2 separate regions of the Homo sapiens genome follow, and region 2 is linked to region 1. A link means that fine-mapping ties the variant in region 1 to the expression of a gene that starts in the linked region. Tissue or cell type: whole blood. Region 1 holds a variant in brackets; the other region holds the start of a gene. All regions are shown on one strand. Distances are between the middles of the regions.

Region 1 (7,916 bases):
ATTGTGAGTGGAAGGCAATAAAGCAGATACAAGGAAAGCTCACATAGTCAAGAGCTCAGAAGCTGATCATTTGTGCTACAGAGAAAGTGGCAGGGTCAATTGTACTTGAACTGTTTACCAATCATTACAAATTGTCCATGCCACTCCCCCTGCTACAGAGGGGCATGTGCCTGCAATTGTTGATCCCATATAACAATCTGAGGAGACAGCTTTCACCACTGACTATGTACATAAATATGGTATGCAGTGTCATACCCTCATTTTGGAAGCATTTTCCTGTGCCAATTCATGAGTAAACCTGATGGCACTGTTACTTGGCTCCCTACAGGCTATGGAACTGAGTCCTGCAGAATTGCAGTCACTGATGATTCAACTCACCGACTTGGTCTTTACCATCCTGCAATTAGTATTTTCATTGCTCTTTTGTGATTCAAGAGACAACTCAGCTTCTGAGGACTGGTTCAATCCACTCAAGTCTGCTGCAGAAATCAGTGATATGTATATTAATTACCCACATCTTGATGTGGCTACACATATGTCTAAGATAGCAGTGTATAACTGGTGCCATAGAACCCTGATCAGAATACTCTCGACTAAGGACAGATGTTGGGCAACCATTCATAGTCCAAAATTATCTTGTTGCAAGTGAAACACAAGTGACAACACTGGTCACAATTAAGAACTTCCTTAGAGACTGACGCCATGCAAATTCTTATCCCTGAAGTAACTGATGAAATACTTAAGTTTAGAAATGCATGAGAGTCTCTTGAAGACTGTAGGATCTGAATGGTTTCCTTATGCCAAAGTAACTCGACATCTGGATGCTTCAAAATTAAATAGCATTCCTACATCTTGCTTCTGCAGCATTTTATCATGTAGAGACCAGCTCAACCATGCTGAATCACAGATAGGGGAATCCAATACCAGGTGATATTCTAGAAACATGACTGAAGGATGCATACAAAAAGCATCAGGAAAGATCAGGTCAATCAACATTCACTCAACAATGAGATTCTCAATTCAGGCAGAATAACTCACGAGATGGTTCAGCACTGGGATCCAAAGGAGAAGGAACAAATCCCCACCTCTATGACAGGAGAGTTTCTAATCAGCCATAAGAATAAAGGAGCTTGTAAAATAGACTTTACTAACTAGACTTTGTCTATCACATGTTTACCTTCCCACCACTTGCCATCCCCAGAGACTTATGGTCTGGTTCACTTGTCTGCCTCTTGAATTTTACCACTCTTTGTTCTAGATGCTACATACTGTCTAGCAAGGCCTTTATACTTCCTTATGGCTTCCACAGTGTAGACTCCTCTCAGGCTTACACTAAGTTATAGGTGATTCAGTGTGTCCTGAAGAGGGACTGGCAGATCTACACTGAAAGCCACCCCCACCCCCAACACACTGCAGTGGTCTTCATTACCAAGAAATGGAAACCCCTGGACACCAGTGATTTTTAAACACAGGCCTTTACCCAAAAAATAGTCATCTGGATGCAAGCTGCACTAAATGCCTAGGCAAAGCTGAAGGAGCCAAACATACTGCAAGTTTCAAAGTGTCCTGAGAACAGTACACTAGGTAGCACAAAAGCACCCTGGAGCCCCCTGAATTGTGCTGCCCATTTCAGCTCCTCTAATATGGGAGATGATTTATTCTAATTTTTCACAATTTCTTCTGGTATTCTCACCCTGGGTACTAGTTATTTTACCATCTGGTCTGGTTTCCTGCCTAGTGTTGGCTCATCTAGGGAGTTCTTTGTCTTACCTATCTAGCCTAAACACGTGTCTAAAAAAAAAAAAACAAAAAAAACAAAGTTGGCCCTTCCTCCTGAGTTCAGGAGAAACAGTTCCCACTGGGGGTTATCAATTGTCTAGAGTCTATGCATCTACTATGGAATATATATACTATGGAGTATATATAGTTTTATCTATTCAGAGAGACCAGGGAGGATCCCAACACAGCCCCCTCAACTGGTCAAGGGAGAGGAGATACCAGATATCCATCTTCCTACCACTGAGATGCTTGGAATGGTACTTTTCTTTCTACTGGTCCATCTTTCTTTATACCTGGGGAATATGTAGATGCATTTTCTGTATAAATTTAATGGTTTAATGGTGTTTATCAACAACCATGGAGAATAATCAGGGTAACTGTTCTTAGTGTAACACCAGATTGGTGCAAAAGTAATTGTTGTTTTTTGTCATTACTTTTAATGGCCTAATAAGTTATCTAGGGGAAGTTGTCTGCCTATCAACTACATGTTACTGTATCTGGAAACCTTAAAACCCCAGGAAGGAGAAAGCATACAGGGTCCTATAAGAACTGCCTGGACTAGTAGAAGGTGCAAGCTAGTGTTCCTTAATGTTTTCCAGCATCTTTGAAAGAGCTAAAGATTCAAATTTGTCATTAGTCATTCTGTTCAGTAGTGATTTTATTTCTTGCTGAAGTCACCATCTGCATATTTGTTGTGCATTTAGCGAGGTTTTTTTTTTTTAAAGAAAAGCCACTACATAAATTAAAAGTGCCCTAGACTGAACCTGTGGGTGTACACCAGCAAATTCCACTGCACTCTTGTGCAGCAGAGACTGCCAATGAGCTGCTATCTTCTCTGCTGTGTCCCTGTGAGGAGAAGAGCCATTTCTTACTGTCTCCTGTCTCCCAAGAGGAGGAGGAAGTAAAAGCTGAAAAGCAACAGGGATGAAGTCAGTGGCAAGACTGACTGGCACCACTGGCCAGACCTGGGGTTAAAAATTAACCTCTGCTCTAACCACATGCGTTATCTATAGATTTCAGACATAGTATAGAGAAACATTCTCCTAGAAGCATTGATCCTGCTCACCGCCCCCCCACCCCAACAAGTCACGTACCCCTTGCTTGCTCAATCCCTTTCACGTGGACCCCTTAGAGTTGTAAGCCCTTAAAAAGGGCCAGGAACTGCTTGGTGAGGAGCTCAGTTCTGGAGACACAAGTCTGCTGATACTTCCAGCCAAATAAAGCCTCTTCCTTCTTTAACCCGGTATCTGAGGGATTTTGTCTGCACTTATCCTGCTACACTCTGGCAATACCTTCATATTGTGTAATTTGCTGTGCTTTAATCACTTATCCTCAACATTAAGATAAGAATTGGAGGAGTGTAAGAGGCCTAAAAATGCTTCTATGTTACAGTAGAAGTTGTATGTGTTAAGACGTACTGACAGGGAAGTCAAAGACATGCTAAGCCTCCTACTTTTTTTAAACTGATGTATTTTTTCATGCATAAGAAAAAATGAA[T/C]ATAGTGTTGGTTGTGAAAACCATACTTAGAAAACATCCTCTACTGTGGCCCTCAAGCCACCCTCTAAGGTATTTAACATTGACATAGAAGCTGACTCTCTGCATCTTTGCTCTGTGTCAGCCTTCAGCATCTGTTCCCCAACACTCAGGTCTTCCCGCTCCTGAACACTTTCTGCTGTTCATCTGCTTCTAGGCCTATTTTCCCTTTAGCTTAACCCATTCTTCCCAAAAACTGCTTCCGTCCCGGACTTGTACCCTATATATTCCTTTAGGACTCTTCTAGTCTATCACCACTGGTTCTCTCTCCAACATGAAACCCAGATGTTTTTCTCTACTTGCTTCCTTCATAAACATTTCATCCTCCTTTGCCCTGCTCTATGCCCAGATGTGCCAATTGTTTATGAACTGCATCACATGTGGTCCTTTGTCCTCTTGTTTCCAGTGGGGTTGGACAACAGGAGGCATTTAAGAGGTTGGTGGGTAAATAGTCCCCCATTCCCTCATAGCCATAGCACCTCACTTCTTCCAGCAGCTGTATCCTAGGTGGTGAAGTCCTTCCCACAACACACACTTTACCTGGCACTATTTACCCTATGCCTTCCCACTGTACTCACATCTAATAAGGGCTTCTATCTATACTAGCCTCTCAGTCTTTTCACATCCTTCTGACTTGGGTAACCTACTCCCACCTTTAAAACTTCTTCCTGAAGCCTCTGCAGAATGTTCTTCCTTCTTGGGCCCAACCATCATGGCCTGATTCAGGAAAACGGGGAATACTAGCTCTTGAACTCCCCACCAGCTTAGTGAATACTTGGTCCAGCCCATATCAGTTGACTTTTCTCCCTAATCTTGCCTTCCCCTCCATTTCACAGGCAGTCAATTCTTATAGACACCTGACACCCCAAACGTCATCTCAATAACTTCGAGAGCCAAAGCTGTGAGAAGTCCTACATCAAAAAGAATATGATCCCATTTGGTAGCAGCTCTTCTGCTTTCCCTCTTTTTATAAACTCAGGGAAAGCAGAGTTGAAGCACAAAAGCAGAACAGAGAGCATAAGTAAGATGGTAGGGTTTACACTTGTGACTTGTAGTATTTCTAGAGAAATAACATTGTCAACCTGGATTTTTATAGTACTATTCAAACTTATCCCTTCCATTTTAAGTATATCATTTTTAGCATAAATTCATGGGATACTGGAAATCAATGAGAGTTAGTGTAGTTGAAAGTCAAGACAAGATTACCTGAGAATGTCATTACCAATTTTATCGTTTCAATTCAGAAATAAGCTTCTATTAATCTAGTAGCCTTAATATACATCAAGGCATCAAGTCTAAGAAGTTTAGCTGTATACTACTAGAATGGAAGATTTGATCTACCCCCCTTCACAAAGTGTTTTAATAGTGTTTCATTTTGCCTGCCACGATAAACAGTTGTGTTTTTTTCTGGTAAAGCTGTGAGCAGCTGAAGTCACCTAACTTCTTTTCCTGTCTCACTTTATCCCCTCACCCTTGCTGTCCCGTTTACCCCTTTCCCCAATACACAGAAGCACAGAAGTAGTTTCAGGATCAACTTTCTAGGGAATCCGGGTCAGTAATCAAAAGCACTGAAATCCCTTTTTTAAGCAATGACAAATGTGGTACTTTTAGTGGTAACACACCCGACTGCCTGACTGCTACATCCCAACAATACACAACCTCTACAGAGTGCTGGGCAAGCATGATCCTGGGCACCTAGGATACAGCACTGAACAGTAAGTCCCTGGCCTCCCACAATTTGCATTCAAATAGAGACAGGTGAGTATTATGAAGAAAACAAAGCAGGATATGGAGTAGGCTTGTGATGAAGGAAGGAAGCAGTCCCATTTTCAATAAGGTTGCCAAGGAAGAAGCATCTTTGATTTTCTCTCAACTGCCATTAACCAAGATTGCTGCATGACCATGTGTCACACATTTACTTCCCTTTGTTTTACCTGACCCACTCAGAGCTTTCATGCATGCCTCTGGTATTTGTGGAGTCTGCATGTGTGGTTTAAATTTGACCATAAGAAACTTAGTGCCTTTTACCACTAATTTCATTAGAGTGTCAATTATGTAGACTACCACATACTGTAGTATGAGAAAGGTGGTTTGAGACCAAAGTGTAAGCTAGAGCTGTTACACAGAGGACTTAGGAGAATTTGCTTTTTGAAACGAAAGCTCAGGTTCTTAGGCTTTTATAGTGGTTTCCTTCCAGCATGTAATAGGGTCTTGTCTCATGTTGGTACCTAATTGTTTAACCACAGGGTCAACAGAATGTCCAACCCATTGAGGAAAGCCAGAAAACTGCTCCAGGTAATTTTCTGTTATTCTATAAAAAGCATGTGTACCTTTGAGAAGCAGCTTATTGTATTCAAAGTACTTTCTCATATGTTCTCTTGCTGCTATTTTATAGATTAGGTTACTGAGGGATTAAAAAAAGTCTCAAAAATGGACTCTCTGCAAGTAACTAGGCAGTTAAGTAAAAGGGGGACCTGACCCAAACCAAATGTTCTTTAAGTCCAAATATTCACACTTGCAGTTTTAAGTTGAAGTGACATATATAGAAGACTTCTTGAGGGTTCTGTCTCTCAGCTTTGGAGCCTCCTCCCTCTGTCTCTGTACAGGGGAGCTTCTTCCTTACCCCTTCTTTCTTGCCTATTAAACTCCCTGCACCTTAAAACTACTCCATGTGTGTCCATGTCATTTTTTCTAATTCAACTCAAGATGAAGAACCTGGTGTTCTCCACTCATAGGAACTGTACCATTTTGGTGCATTGGCTGAGACTTGCCCAGACATATCCAAACATGCCTTGTGCTGAGAAACACAATGTGCTTACCAGAGAAGTGGTAGCAACTAACCTCACTGCGGGAGGGAAAGGGGAAAACTCTGCTTCTAGACTGTAAAAATCTTGCACATTTCATGCAGAGAAAGAGTAAGAGGCTGCAGATAGAGAGAGAAGAGTTGTGCACCAGGATAGTTGAGGTTCTCTGCCAACACCCAGAATTGGTTGTCAGAGGCTACATCCGGTCCGGAGACCTTTGAATCACACCTGGGCATGCCCTGGCCAGAAATTCTCAGTTGCCTCAGGACTTTTCCCAGCCTTGCGTGATGGCAAGATCCCCCATGAAAATAAGCTAGTTCAAACATGGCCAACATTCCCAATACCCCATGGGTAAAGGGGGTTCTCCGTGTTCTCCCCAGCAAGCCTCACATCCATGACTTGAGTACAGCAGCCAAGGCTAAGCATATGTACTAGGCTAACAGACGCCCATTGATTTATTTGATTTAATATAGAGGTGAAGAGCATCTTGGAATGATAGAACAGATTTTGAGCTTGCTCCCATACTCACCACTCTGACAAATGCCCTGGAGTATATGTTGAAGCACTGGGACTCCTTCAACCTTGAAACTCTGAAGAAAAAGTGGCTTATTTTCTTTTGTGGCCATATCGGGCAGGCTCGGGGAAAATAGTTCCCAAAATTAAAGTAACTTTCAGGGAAGTCATCTAAGGGTCTCCCTTATTTGGCGCTCCTTAAAGTTCCCTTCTCATTGCAGGACCTTAGGCAAGTAAAGAGAAACTAAGGCTGATCTTTTGATGAACCTGTTAGATACATGGAAGCTTTCCAAAATTTAACTCAGGTATTTGATCTCACATGGAGGGAAGGTTATGTTGCTGCAAAGTCAAACCCTCATTTTAGCTAAAATAGGCAGTTCCGCAAGCAGAAGAAAATTTTGGAGATAAGCAATATGTCTCCTATAGTAGGCCAGAAGGGAAAAGAGAAAATAGGGAAGGCAAAGAAATAGGGGAAACACCATTCCCAACAGGAAGAGAGGTATTACCTCTTAACCCTTAGTAGAACTCCTTTCTATGGTGTTTTTCCTTCTCTTGTGGTTTAAAATTGCATCTTTTCTTTGTGTACTTTCAACTTGGGAAAAGTTAATTCTCCAAACCTTAAAATGTTTGGCTTAAAGTTGAACTAAGGGGAAGGGAACCCAGAAGCCTAATATGCTGGCAGCAAAAGGGTAAAAATTTCTTACTACTCAGCTGGATTTTGGATTCTCTCCCTGCACATACCAGTAAAAGTGATAATAAGGATCACTGTTTATGTTTTCTGTAAATGTATAATTAATGATAAAGGATTTATAAGGTTGGTCTTAAGCTGTAGACAATCTGGTGTGCTTTGCATGTCTTTCTGCATGGTCCTGTCAAAGAAAGGGTATCTTAGTCAGGGTGCAGGCCCATGCCAGAGATGGTGAATTCTTCTTCAATGGGTTTAATTGTGTGATGTCCTTGTCCTTGGTTCAGAGGCCCCACCTCCTTGTACTATGTTTCTAGCCTGCAAGCAGCCCTCCCACTCTTGTTATGCTCTGAACTTGCCCAGACATGTCCAAACATGCCTTGTGCTGTAGCAGAGGGACCACTCCCACCCCCTCCCTCCCTTATGAATTGCACATTTACCTTTTTTGGAAAAGTTTAAGTCTTAGCCAACTGGGATGACTTTAGATTGTGCAGTCCAACCCTAGCTAATAGGGGAAGGACACAGGGATAGGGACTGCATTAGGGATAAAAACTCCTCTCCTTTGTTCAGTGTGCTCTTGCAATCATGGCTGAGACAAGCAG
Region 2 (6,231 bases), 190 kb after region 1:
TTATATTGAGGACTATAAATATATGGCAAATACCTAAAAAATAGTAGTCTCTCTTTTGTCACATATTCAAGAGAAAGTACTTAAGAGGTAAAACCTAAGACACAACAGAAAAACCTAAGATACAACAATACAATTAATCTTGTAGTCTTATTCTGGCACTAACGATCACAATTCTGATTATAAATTTTTATGTACAGTGGACGTTATTATACCCATTCGATAAATATTTCTTGAACCCTGTGTGCTAGGCACTGGGCATAGAAAAAGGAAGACATATTTATAAAAATGATGAAATACCTTCATAAGAGCCAAGAACCTGTCCAAAATATTGACAGCCAGGACAAAAGTTTCAGTGCAAGATCCAAAAAAGTTGGCTAAACTCCTTAAATCTTCAACTTTGGCATTTCTCAATCCTGGACACAAAGTGTTATCATTCTGCAATAAAAACCAAGAACCAAGGTTTACAATTTTCTTAGAACCAGATGAAAAACACATACAGGTCCAAAGAATAAGGTTAATTTTTTCCCAAGAATAAGGTTAATTTTTTTCCCTCAATCTTCAAGAATATAGGTGGAAAGAGTGGTATCGCTTAACTAAAGCTATACACTTTATCATCTGTAAGACGTAAATCACTGCTTCTTAAAAATACGCATCATAAAAGAGCTTCAGCAATTCAATATAAGGTGAACTGTTGCAAGATTTCAGAGAGTTATAGCAAATATAATTCAATTCCCTTGGAATGGAGAGAAAGGGTTCTTTTGTTTGCTTTTCTAAAGTCATTTAAGATTCTACTATAAATATGTATTTCACAGGCAGAGGGTGTTTGCACAAATGAACTACTCAATTCACCCGGGGTCTCCCATCCTGAAGCTGCAGGCTGGAGTATGGGGGGCAGCGAGGAGGGTGCCACATTAAAAACAACAACAAAAAACCCCACTTCTCTAAAGTATCACTCTCATTCTTGCTAAGAAACAAAAGCATTAACCTGTAATAAGGTTTATCTTGGTACTCCAGAAAGAACAACTTTTAAGAAATTTTGCAGGCTTTAGTCATGATTCAACGGGGGCGGGGGGGTTACCTCCTCCAAGCCCCATCAGCTGCTTGAGCAAGTTATCTTTTCTGCCAACTTACCTCCGGGGTAGCCTCAATCAAACTCAGCCCTTTTTCTCGAGGTTGGAATCTCTCTTCTTGTTCCAGGTAGACGTTCAACAACCCGAGAAGTTGGACCCCTTCATGACCTGCCAAGTGCTCTGCCCCCAAATCCTTCATCTGCAGTAAAGACACCACACAGAGAATGTAATCTGGGGGTAAGAGGGGTGGGGAAGCGGGAGAAAGGGCTGAGGCCAGTACCTCCAGCAAGGGTCGCCCCAGCACACCCCGACAAGGAGCGGGTGAAGGGACCAGTCACGTCCGCCAGAGCCCCAGGGCAATCCCCACCACGGCCAGGGAGGTGTGGCAGGGGGAGGAGCCGTGGTCAGGTCCGCCGGCCAGCGCTGGGTAAGACCGGCCAGCCCTGGCCTCTTGGCGTTTCACAAACAGGAAACTGTCCGCGGGCGCCGGCGTCCCCTCGGTCTGCCCCACCTGAAGTCGCGCCAGGGAGGGCCTTCTGCCCAGGGGACTGCAGTGTGGCGAGCGACTGCAGCGGGTCCCGGGGATGGGGTGTTGCACAATAGGGGGGAGGGGAGGGAGAGTCTCGCGACTGAACAAAGAAGCGGAGGGAGGAGACTCCCGAGCCCCGCCCGCCCGGGGCGCCCAGCTGCAGAAGCCCCTCTCGGAGAGTCCCGCCCCCAGCTTTTCCCGTCCGCTGCTGCAGCGCCGATTCCGGACTTACCCGAGAGGCGGATACCCCCGTCCCAGGAGCCCTGGGGTGGCGCGGCACACCCGGCTACGGTCCGGGGAGAGAAGTCCAGTCCAGCCCGCCCGCCCCGCGCCCGTAGGGACAACACCCGTCCACCCACTGATGCCGGGGCCCCACAACTCTGCAGAGCCCCGGGGCTGTCAATTCGAGAAGCACCACGCCAGCAAGTCCCCGTGACAACACGAGCGGGGGCGGGGGGCACCGAGGCGGAGACTGCCCTTAACCTAGTCGCAACCTCCTTCCACCCCACGAGCATCTATCTGTCCATCGCGGGCGCCAGCTCCCCCCGGGGCTGGGGCTGAGGGCAGCACCCTGGTCGCTCCAGCGGATGAGGAGCAGGCAGCACCGAGGCACTCGCATGGTACCAACCTCCTCAAAGCCCACAGTCCCCACCACGAACAAAGAAACCCACGGCGGCCCTGGGCGGGTCCACTCACCGTGCCGGAGACGCGCCTCCACCCGCCCGCGGCCTCGCGGTCCGCACGGACTGGGCGCAGCGGGGGCTTCCAAACCTGTCTCGCAGGTCGGGGACCCACCGCCTCAGCGGTGCCCCCGGTCCGGCATCCGACCCTTCCTCCCAGGCACCGCCGCCTCGGCCTCACAGCCCCGGCTCCATCCCGCTCCCCGCGCGCCCACCCTCCGCCGCGGCGCAACGCCGGCCGCGGAAGACCAGCCCACCGCCGCACCCCCGCCGCCTCAGCGGAAACCTCCCCGAGCCCCTTGTTTTTGTTAAGAGTTTCGACGCCCCCAAGGGGGCGGGGCACGTGACTCCCCGCGGAGGGATCCTGCACTTCCTCCACGGACTTTAAAAAAGAGTCCCGCCCCTAAGCTGCCGTCTCGAGCCTCTCTCGCGGCCTCCCTAGCTCTCCTTGGCTTTGCCGAGCCAGTCCTCCCGCCTGGCGCTAGGGCGGAGAGCGGAATCTGGGCGTCGGGCTTATTCCGCGATTGATCTGCGTTGGGGAACGGGGGAAGACAGAGGGGCGGAAGGAGATCGTTTCTGGTCTCATTACGCCTTTTAAAGGTCCCCGATTTGTTTTGTTTTCGCTGTTTTGAAAAGTCCGCCCAAAGTAGCCGGCTCTCTGATTGGATGCGGGTGGGGCGATGGGCATGCTGAGGACCTGATTCACCCTCGAATCTGGATTGGCTAACTTATCAGTCTTGGAGCCCTCTGATTGGCTTTCTCCGTAGCCTGAGCCTCTCTCTGCCTTGGGGCCTTAGCAACTCCAGGGTCTGGATTGCGCATGCCTGGGTGTGCAGCGGAGAAGGTATTCAGTTACCTGCCCTGCGGGGCTGTGCCTTCTCGCCTGGCTGCCTCCGCCTTTCTTGGGGGAATGTCACGCTCGCGGCGCTTCTCCTAACAGCTAACCTTTGTGACAGCCTTTTCAGCCACGGGAGAGTTTTCTACATTCCTTCTTTATTTTGTCTTGGCGTTCCATTTTGCAATAACCCACCAAATTATTATAACATTGTCGGGGCGTTTACTAAAATATTCAATAAATGCTACAAGTTTGGGTATTTGCTTTAAAATTTTACAGTCCAAGAGAAAAAAAAATGGAGAAGAGAGGTGAAATAAGATAGGCAAAAAGTTGAGGGTCGAAGCTGGGTGATGGGTACTCGAGGCTGCATTACAGTATTCTTTCTAGTTCTGTGTCTTGGAATTTTTCCATAATTTAAAAAAATTCAGGAGGGACTGAAGGAGGGGCTTTTCAATAAAAACTTAGCACGCTGATGAGGGTACGTAAACATCTAATAATTACGGCGTACCTCCAGAGGTTGTAGTGCTGTTGTTTTAATGAAGACTCCCAGAGCTTCTTGGTCCTTGGTAACCCATAAATTATCATTTATTGTTCATTATAATTAGCGTTGTTATTATAGGCGACACGTCTCCCAGGACGGGACAAAAAGCAAACAAACCAGGTGCCTTAGGCCAGAGACACTTTCACACGGAATATCAATGGGGCATGTGGTTGACTGCCCTGGAACATTTATTTGTTTACTCTCTCCCTCCTAAATTAGAAAATACCATATTCGTGAGTTCTAATCTACATAATCAGATAGTCCCTGGGAAGAGATTTCTCCTTTCTGTTCTTCTATGTGTTTTCTGTGAATTATTTTGTTACTTGTGAAATATGGGAAGGCACACAACATAGCTTTGGCAGCGCTCTTCTTTGCGGAGCAGCTAAGGAATTTTAAAACTAGGTCCCTTTGCATATTAGCTCGGACTAAACACAGGCATCTGTTTGGAGCACAGAGCAACTGGGGGAAGGCAGCCCAAAAAGCTAACACTTATTTCAGAGAGGTGTGAGCTTGGTGAGGGTTTTGGAAAATAAGATAAAATTAGCACACCAGTTTTAAATGATTTACAGGCTACATAATTTTATCCAATGCTTGTTTTATCTTTTAAACATTAAGTGATAACTTTTATTTGACATAATCATCTTGCTGGAAATCTATGCTGATAAACATAATAGGAGCATGAAACTAACTTAGAGACTAGAGCTAAGATTAAAATTACAGAGATGACAGCTCATTGTACAGAGCATCAATAGGCTGAGTGGACAGGGCCCACAGACAGAAAGCAGCTCGACCAACTATCCACCATCAGAGAAATGAAGAGTTTGTGATCAAAGCATGAAGGAGACTGGGGATGTTTTTTTCAAGTAAGAAGGCAAAGGTAAAAAAGGAACATACGTTATTTTATAAGTGATGTGAAAGAGGAAATGCAAATTTATGTGGTAGAAGACTTTAAAAATAACAGACTATATAAAACAAAAAGGAAAAGATTTAGAAATTGTCCTTTGCTTAGGCTACATAATTTTATCCAATGCTTATCTGATCTTTTAAACATAAATAAGTGATAACTTTTATTTGACATAATCATCTTGCTGCTTAGCACTAAATGATATGAAGCTATACTAAATGTGTACTCTATATTTCATAACTGGTATTTTATGTGTCCTTTTACAGACAGCCTCTTGAATGATGTGAACAGTGATGGCTTTCTCTGAGAGTAAGACAAGAAAGCTTTGTAAATGGCGTTGAATTTCCTGCTCTTGGCAGGCCCTGCTCAGCACAGAAGAAAAGACTGATCAAGTTGTCCAAGATGGAGCCCTTTATCCACGTTAGTCCACTTATCTCTTTAAGATTAAAGGAAAGCAATCATTAAAAATACAGATCCAGTAATTATTAATACAGCATCCTCTTTTTTAAACACCTCATTTTAAGAATGATGATATTCTTAGGAAATGGGCTGGGGGATTATGTAGGTTTTCTCTGTTTACTTTGCAGAATTTTTTGTTTGTTAATATATCTTTTAAAAAAAAATTCTCCTCATTCTATTTGTCCTTATCACATTGGCTTACCTTGCCGGAGCTGAAAGTGTTATTTATGAAAAAGACATTATTCCCCTTAGGCTAATCAGGCTTTACCCATTAGCCTTTCCTGAGCTTTCTGGAAGGCAAATTTCCTGTATCATGCACACATACAAAATAAGGAAATCAGAAACTTGGCAGCCCCCAAGAACTTCCAGACAATTTAAGATACTTGGTTTTCTACAGCATGTGGTAGGGGTGCAGTGGGGTTGGGTGATACTGTCACCAATAACCCCATGAAAGCCTGATGTGCAGCCCATTGTCCTCAGTGACATGTGAGACTGAAACTAAAAGGTGCTCACAGAATGGGTAATAAGCAGGGAGTGCCCACACAGAAACACTGACTACATTCAGTGAATCCCTGACTCCTGACAAGTGTGCTGCAAACCTGCTCACACTTAAGCTTCTACCTTGAAAATAGGGCACTCTCATGGGACAGTTGCAGTGCTTCCCTAAATGACTTAGACTTCCCTGAACTTCATAAGGCATCAAAATTGCTACAATTTTCCAAATATCATCTTTCTCCTCAAAGATATGGTTTTTGACAATAAATCCTAGCTTTTTATTCAATCGAAATTTAGTGAATACACACTGAGTGCCAGGCATGCTACTAGGCACCAGGAATACAAAAATACATAAATAAAACAAGGCCCCAGCATATACCCTGGTATGTCTGAGGTGTAGGGCAAAAGCACTGGCCATGGATCAAACTGGCTTTGTGTCTCAGCTTTCCTACTCATTAGAAATGGTGCCTTGAATACCCTGAATAATTCCCATGGTCTTGAGCCTCAGCTTTCTAAACTGAGGAAAACAAAAAGCCAGAGGTAGTTGTGTCTGCTTCATATGTGATGACTGAATACAAACATTTGTGAAAGCAACTAGCTATATATTTCTAGGCTGCACCATGTTGTGACTTCATGAAGGGAAAGGAAGGGATCATCCCTAACCTCATCAAAGAAGTCTGGTGGAAAGCAGCCCTGAAAGGAAAGAACCTGAGGATAA

What was found. PIP is the estimated chance that this variant, and not a neighbour inherited with it, causes the effect.
Region 2: it holds the start of CCNG2, and the variant in region 1 is fine-mapped to the expression of CCNG2 in whole blood (INTERVAL, PIP above 0.99).

Annotation. Positions count from the first base shown.
Region 1 is chr4:77,342,386-77,350,301 of GRCh38, reverse strand. No RefSeq gene overlaps it. Among named protein-coding and RNA genes, the nearest start is that of CCNG2, 190 kb to the right of the region's middle. RefSeq lists an enhancer at 6,817-7,916. The variant T/C (reference allele first, on the strand shown) is at 3,277.
Region 2 is chr4:77,153,571-77,159,801 of GRCh38, reverse strand. It overlaps CCNG2 (cyclin G2), which reads right to left and starts at 2,595. Exons shown (of 8, transcript NM_004354.3): 1 at 2,296-2,595; 2 at 1,132-1,269; 3 at 298-435. The coding sequence starts at 1,269. LOC101928864 (a long non-coding RNA gene) reads left to right here and starts at 1,738. Exons shown (of 2, transcript XR_244659.5): 1 at 1,738-4,532; 2 at 4,826-5,048. RefSeq lists silencers at 2,287-2,396, 2,427-2,496, 2,917-3,036, 5,379-5,448.